2 linked regions of the Homo sapiens genome follow. The protein of the gene in region 2 purifies or fractionates together with the protein of the main gene of each other region. This does not show direct contact. Each region holds a gene or a part of one and is shown on either strand. Other genes may lie near its edges.

What was found.
Region 1: the proteins of ARG2 (region 2) and CPT2 purify together in Homo sapiens (affinity purification with mass spectrometry, with the first as the bait; one large-scale study listed by BioGRID). This does not show direct contact.

What each region holds. Positions count from the first base shown.
Region 1 is NC_000001.11:53,210,324-53,214,143, reverse strand, and holds part of CPT2 (carnitine O-palmitoyltransferase 2, mitochondrial isoform 1 precursor), read right to left. Parts: coding exon 2,825-3,820; intron 881-2,824; coding exon 549-880; 3' UTR 1-548. UniProt on the Homo sapiens protein: Involved in the intramitochondrial synthesis of acylcarnitines from accumulated acyl-CoA metabolites.
Region 2 is NC_000014.9:67,640,340-67,644,159, forward strand, and holds part of ARG2 (arginase-2, mitochondrial precursor), read left to right. Parts: intron 1-1,846; coding exon 1,847-2,024; intron 2,025-3,820. UniProt on the Homo sapiens protein: May play a role in the regulation of extra-urea cycle arginine metabolism and also in down-regulation of nitric oxide synthesis. Extrahepatic arginase functions to regulate L-arginine bioavailability to nitric oxid synthase (NOS).

The sequences.
Region 1 (3,820 bases), on a different chromosome or scaffold from region 2:
GTTTTCCAAACCTTTCCTCCTGATTAAATGCCCTTAAAACTTAAATCTCTTGTTATCTTCAGTTGTGATCTAGTCCCAAGTGGAAATTACGTTTAGCTTTAAAACCATGAATTTAAAGCTCAAGCCTGTAGCTGGCTGCCTAGGCAGCTTATGATTAGTTTCACAGAATAGCACCCACTGGCTACACAGGCCCCAGTTTTTTTTTCTTTTTTGTTTTTTTGAGACAGTCTCGCTCTGTCGCCCAGGCCGGAGTGCAGTGGTGTGATCTCAGCTCACTGCAACCTCCACCTCCTGGGTTCAAGCAATTCTGCTTCAACCTCCCAAGTAGCTGGGATTATAGGCACATGCCACCACACCCAGCTAATTTTTGTATTTTTAGTAGAGACAAGGTTTCACCATGTTGGCCAGGTTGGTCTCAAACTCCTGACCTCAAGTGATCCACCCGCCTCAGCCTCTCAAAATGCTGGGATTACAGGCATGAGCCACCATGCCCGGCCTCCCAGTTTTCATGATGAGGAAGTGATGGTAGCTTTTCATCTGCCCAGAAGTTAACTTTTGATGGATTTGCCTTCTAAGGCATCAAACATGTCTTCTAAGGCCTTCTCCACACATTGGAGAAACTCCCGGGCATTGCGGCCTGGGTAGGAAGAGACATTGCAGCCTATCCAGTTGTCATGAACAGCATACCCAACACCAAAGCCATCAGAGACCACAGGGGCAAAGCCCCCAAGGTTCACTGCTGGGCTGCTCAGTGTGCTCGTGGACAGGACATTGTGGTTTATCTGCCCGTATGCAGGGTCCAGGTAGAGCTCAGGCAAGATGATCCCTTTGGCTGCTGCCAGATGCCGCAGAGCAAACAAGTGTCGGTCAAAGCCCTGGCCTGTGAGAAACAAAATGGAAAACCAGAGTCTCAGGATGGAAAAGGACCTCAGGAAAACCTCCCAACTCACCACATGGTAGGAATACCCCTCACAGCATCCTTGAGAGTGGGGGAAGGCTCTACCTCTATGCACACCACCAACTGACTAACCTTCAGAGCAGCTCAAGCTAGATTATTTTAAATTATTTAGGAAATATATTATGTCATGTTACATTTAAAAATAGCTGTCAACAGCTGAGCTAAAAATGAGCCTAAAAGGAAAGCATAATTTTAAAGATGTGAAATCAGTTTAGTCAAAGAGTCAAGACAGTACAGGAAGACAGCTATGGACTCAAAAACTACAATAAAACTAAAAGTCTGATTCAAGTGTAAAAGAGAAGATTGAGTCAGTGGAACAAAATGGAAAGTCTGTTTGACCAGGGTTCGAATCTCAGTCTTACTACTAACTTGCTGTGTAACGGGGCCAGTGGCTTGGTTTTCTCCCTATAAAATGGAGGAAGAGAAGATTAGAATGTCTTGGAGGTCCCTTTCACTTCCAGCACTTCATAGCAACATGAAAGGACAACTATGACCCTCCAGGTCCTTTCCAGGTCTTGAATTTTATCAAAAAAAGGTAATGACGGATGACAATTGAGAAGAGCTTCTGAGATAACCTGTTTACAGAGAGCAGACACATTACAACTGAGGTGAAGCTAGTGGGGCCGTAAGTTTAGAAATCCTAAATTTTCAAAAGTGAGTCTGATAACCAATCAGTAATAGAAAAAGGTTGGGTGCAGTGGTGCATGCCTATAATCCTAGTGCTTTGGGAGGCCAAGGCAGGAGGATTGCTTGAGCCCAGGAGTTTGAGACCACCTTGGGCAATACAGTGGGACCTCATCTCTACAAAAAATTTTAAAAATTAGGCCCGGCATGGTGGCTTACGCCTATAATCCCAGCACTTTGGGAGGGTGAGGCGGGTAGATCATGAGGTCAGGAGTTTGAGACCAACCTGGCCAACATAGTGAAACCCCGTCTCTATTGAAAATATAAAAATTAGCTGGGCATGGTGGCATAAGCCTGTAGTCCCAACTACTCAGGAGGCTGAGGCAGGAGAATCGCTTGAACCCAGGAGGCAGAGGTTGCAGTGAGCTGAGATTGTGCCACTGCACTCCAGCCTGGGCAACAGAGCAAGAGTCCATCTCAAAAAAAAAAAAAAATTAAAATATCAGCTGGGCATGGTGGTGCATGCCTATAGTCCCAGCTATTTGGGAGGCTGAGGCAGGAGGATTGTTTGAGCCAAGGAAGTTGAGGTTGCAGTGAGCCATGATTGCACCACTGTACTCCAGCCTGGGTGACAGAATGAGACCGTGTCTCCAAAAAAAAAAAGGCCAGGTGCGGTGGCTCACGCCTGTATTCCTAGAACTTTGGGAGGCTGAGAGGGATGGATCACCTGAGGTCAGGAGTTCAAGACCAGCCTGGCCAAAATGGCAAAACCCCTTCTTTACTAAAAATGCAAAAACTAGCCAGGTGTAGTGGCGGGTGCCTATTATCCCAGCTACTTGGGAGGCAGAGGCAGGAGAATCACTTGAACCTGGGGGTGGAGGTTGCAGTGAGCCGAGATCACGCCATTGCACTCCAGCCTGGACGGAGGGAAACTCTTGTCTCCAAAAAAAAAAAAAAAAAAGAAAGAAAAAAGAATTAATGCGTCACAGCTGAAAGTGACCTTAAATGAGGACAAAGACACATGCATTTCCCCACCCCTGCTTAGGAGGCAAGAACATTCTGATCCCTAGTGGCTAGTGTGGCTGTTCAGACTGCTAGGGTAGAAAAGAAAAATTTGGGGAGTTGGCGATGGATTAAACCTAGTGAACGGGTAGAAATCAGATTTGGAGTAGAATGATTTAGGCTTGCTTACCCAAGCACTGAGGACAAGACCCAAGGGCATGCTCCCCACCCCTGCCTCACCCATTGCTGCTTCTTTGGTCAGCTGGCCATGGTACTTGGAGCACTCAACCATCATCTGCTGAAGCTCACCAGCACTGTGCCTGGAGGGCTCCCTGACAAAGGCCTCAGAGCACCTCTTTGTATAGACGGAGGCCGGGCGGATGGTCTCAGTGCGGCCGTGCTTGAATGCGGCAGTGCTACAGGACTCGTAGGTGGCCACTGTCTGCCCGTACTGCCGCAGGAAGGCCATCTGGAATGCCAGCTGGGCAACTGCGTCAGGGCTCAGCTTTTGCTTCTTCAGGAATTCTTTGCCTCCTCTCTGAAACTGGACGCAGTCAATAGTGAGGGTTTTCATGGTGGCATCAAACTTTTCCTTAGCAGCTGTGATGCCAGTCTTTAAGGCATCAGTCAGCTCGAAGTTGAGTTTCTGCACCGTGACAGTAGAGTCAGTGGTAGCTGGCTGGCTCTGTGGAGTGACGGCAGGGGTCTGAGTGCTGTCTTTAAATACTTCATTAAAAAATCTGAGCACTGCCACACCATCACCCCAAGAGTGCTCAAAGTGGACGGCAGTAGAGCCATCCTTGGCGATAATGAGGTTAAAGGATTTATCAAACCAGCGGTTTGTGCCATCCCCATGCAGCATATTGTGGGACAAGTGGACAAGGTCCTTAATGGGGAAGTCATCTAGGCAGAGACAGAACACTGCCGAGTCCACTTTCCTCAGGCTCTCCTCATTGCCACTACTCATCAGCTTCTGCCTGAGCTCTGCCCAGATGTCTCGGTTCTCACTGGTCAGGTATGCCAGGGGAAACTCGGGGGCGGGGCTGCTGTCTGAGAGAATGTACTTCAGATGTGCCTGGATTTCCGAGGGGCTCACAATGTTCCCATCTTGATCCAGGACATCAAAGATATAAAAATTTCCTTTCCTTAGGACCAGGAGGTGTCTGGCCTTGTCATCAGTGAAGAGTTCATCCCGACTGGGTTTGGGTAAACGAGTTGAGTTGAAAAGCCGAAAAT
Region 2 (3,820 bases):
TTTAAGAATAGGTCTGGGTGACACAAGGGCTGGGGAGGAAAAAAAGAATAGGACAAAGTTTTCTGTCTTGTTTCCAATATCTCTTGCGGTGGCAATTCCTTGGTTGGCCTCATGGCTTTTTGTTATGGTCACTGCTCCTCAAATTTTTATATTTCTTCAGAATTTTGGCTTTGGATTGAGTTTGGGTTCAAGAGGTAGAGCTCAAAATTATAATTTAAATTCATGATGAGTCCATGCTGCTCTTAATCCGAACCTTTAACACAAATCTCTGCAAATATTAAGATACGCCACGTCTTATCTTGTTACTGCCCCTTTCCCACCAATACCAGGACCCTAAGAATATAATCTATGTCAATGTTCTGTTCTCTGATAGTTCAGATCCCTTTTTGATACAGTCAGATTATTTAGTCCTCATCCTAAATGTAGCATCCAACTTAGGTGGGGAAATATTCAAAGCTGTGAGAATATAGCACTAGTTCTTAAAGTGTTGGACTCATGAGGAATTCCTTAGGAGACAAACTGCATAGTAAAGGATAGAGGTTGAGCGTCCCTAATCCAGAAATCCAAAATCGGAAATGTTCCAAAATCTGAAACTTTTTGAGCACCAATATGACATTACAAGTTACCCTGAACACACTGTATTAATGGTATGTCATATTTTCTGCTTTTAAGTACTTATGTGTGAAAAAGTAAGAAAATAACTGCCTATCAGTAGCATATAAATTCAGAGTCAGGAAGATGGTGATGCCAAACAATCATATTGTCCACATGGGTGGCTGTGATAGTGACACCTTTGTTTTCTGATGGTTTAATGCACACAAACTTTGTTTCATGCACAAGATGATTTAAAATATTATATAAAATTACCTTCAGGCTATGTGTATAAAGTGTGTATGAAACACAAGTTTTGTGTTTAGACTTGAGTTCCATCCCTAAGATATCTCAATATATATATAATGCAAATATTCCAAAATCTGAAAAAAATAAAAAATCTAAAACACTTCTGGTCCCAAGCCTTTGGATAATGGGTACTCAACCTGTACAAACTTTGGAGCCAGATGGCCTAGATTTGGATCCTGATTCTGGCACTTAATAGCTGTGTAACTTGGGCGGTTACTTCTCTTTGCTTCAGTTTCCTCATCCACCAAATAGGCACATTTTAGTTGCCTCACACAACTGTTTTGAGTCTTAAATAAGAATTTATGTTAAGCAGCTAGAACAATGCCTGGGATCTTGTAAATAATCAATAAATATTAGATATTTCTTTTAGGATGTTTCAGATTGGCTATTTATAAAAGTTTATAATATGTGAATTTCTTGGCCAGGCAGGTGGCTCATGCCCATAATCCCAGCACTTTGGGAGGATGAGGCGGGAGGATCAGTTGAGGTCAGAAGTTTGAGACCAGCTGGGGCAACATAGCAAGACCCCATTTCTACAAAAAGAAAGTTTAAAAAAATGAGACTCTCTTTGTGTATTTTTTTGCTAAATTAATAGTACTTAATTTCCTTTAAAATTGTTGGTTCTTAATTTTCTTTAAGATTGTTGGTTCTTTTTGATATTTTATTTCTACTCTATCACTCCAGGATATCTGAGGTCTAATGGTTAACCATTTTTTTATTGTTGGGTTAAGTCAATCGATATCTCTTAGTTTCAGTTTCCAACATCTGCAAAACTGTTCATAATAGGATCGAGATAATCTTCCCACAATCATTTGACATTTTAAATTTTACTGTGACAAAATGATTATGATGTGTACTTTGTCACGTATTATCATTGTGGCCCAGGCTAGTTAAGAGTTGGAGATAGCACAGAAAATTCATCTTGTCATCCCTCATTTGCTTCCAGGCTGCCACCTAAAAGACTTTGGAGATTTGAGTTTTACTCCAGTCCCCAAAGATGATCTCTACAACAACCTGATAGTGAATCCACGCTCAGTGGGTCTTGCCAACCAGGAACTGGCTGAGGTGGTTAGCAGAGCTGTGTCAGATGGCTACAGCTGTGTCACACTGGGAGGAGACCACAGGTAAGCTGGGAGCCAGGCGTGGTGAGGGGATGGATTACATGGTGCTTGGGGCTCATAACTTAGCTTCTTTATCTGTTTCTTCATCTGGAGAAAAATACCCTACAGAATTTTTAGGGTAGATATTAAAATGAACAGCAAGCATTTAAATGTCTAAGATCCTGAGCTGCTCAAGGGGCACTGTGGTTTTCTTTGTATGACACATTGCACAGTAAGAATATGTACATTCAGACACAGCAAGTTCAGAGGTATACTAGGCAAGGTTCCTAGGCACTGTGTTAACATGCTTGTCTCCTGGAAAGCTTTCTTGAGACTTATCTTATGACTTTGGAGAATTAGAAAGATCCATTGATAGGCTGAATGTGCAAGTTTTTGTTAGCATTTCTGCTAATAGACCTGTTAGAAATCCCCTTTGGCATGTTACTACATTTTCTTTTTTTTTTTTTTTTTTTTTTTTTTTGAGATAGGGTCTGGCTCTGTTGCCCAGGCTGGAGTACAGTGGCATGATCTCAGCTCACTGCAACCTCTGCCTCCTAGGCTCAAGCCATCTTCCTACCTCAGCCTCCCAAGTAGCTGGGACTACAGGTGCATGCCACCATGCCTGGCTCATTTTTGTATTTCTTGTAGAGACAGGGTTTGGCCATGTTGCCCAGACTGGTCTCGAACTCCTGAGCTCAAGCGATCCTTCTGCCAAGGCCTCCCAAAGTGCTGGGATTACAGGCATGAGCCACTGTGCCCAGCTGTGGATACATTTTCTGCCTCCACAATATGGACCCTAGTGACTCATGCAATCAGTCCTTTGATCCTGTCTCCTCCTGAATCAGCATGTACTTTATTGAGCACTGTTCTGATATTTTCTCAGCAGTGCTAGAGATTGCAGGAAATTTGTGATATATTAAGGCCTAGATGAAATAAATATACATGGAATAAACAAAAATATTGAATTCTACAGAATTTCAAAGGAGGAAGAGATCAGTCTGGACTAAAATAGATTTCACAAGGGAATGTGATTTGAAATAAGCAATGAAGGTCTTCAGTAGGAAGAAGGCACTGAAGTACTAGGAGTATTGAGCACTCCATACATATTCTCAGTTAATTCTGCTAACAATGCTAGGTGGTAGATATGGTTTTATCATTTACTGCTGGAAGCATGTAGGGACAGATATATAAGAACTTATCCAAGGTGGGCACAGTGGTGCATGCCTGCAGGCCCAGCTACTCAGGAGGCCAAGGTGGGAGGATTGCTTGAGCCCAGGAGTTTGAGGCCAGTCTGGGCAACACAGTGAGATCAGGTCTCTTAAAAATAAATAAATAAGAAAGAAAATATAACTTATCCAAGGACTAGAACCAGGAAATAGAGCTGGGATTCAAATCCAGTGTGACTCTTCTGGTGATTATTTTCCCTGAGGTGCTGAGAAAGCTTTTCAGATCACTGAACAGAAATGAAATCTTTGTTACATCTGGAGAAGCAGGTAGATTCCTCCTTGGGAGTAAAAAAAAAAAAAAAAAAAAAAAAAAAAAAGACTCAGGTTGAAGAAAACGGTCACACCCAGGTTCCCTACTGAGATGACTAGGCCATTCAATTAAATCAACCAGAGGGCAAGTCTCCTGCCTCCTTTCTCAGTGTAGTCTCTGGAAATTTATTAAGTCTGTCTGCTGTTCTGAGTTCTGGTCAAGTCTCACTGTTTGGGGACCACTGATCAATGTGATTACCACAGATCTTGTTTTCTTTTCCTGTGGCTATCTATATTGCAGCCATGTTACTGCTTACCAGCTCAATGTTAAAGCTTAGGCAATCT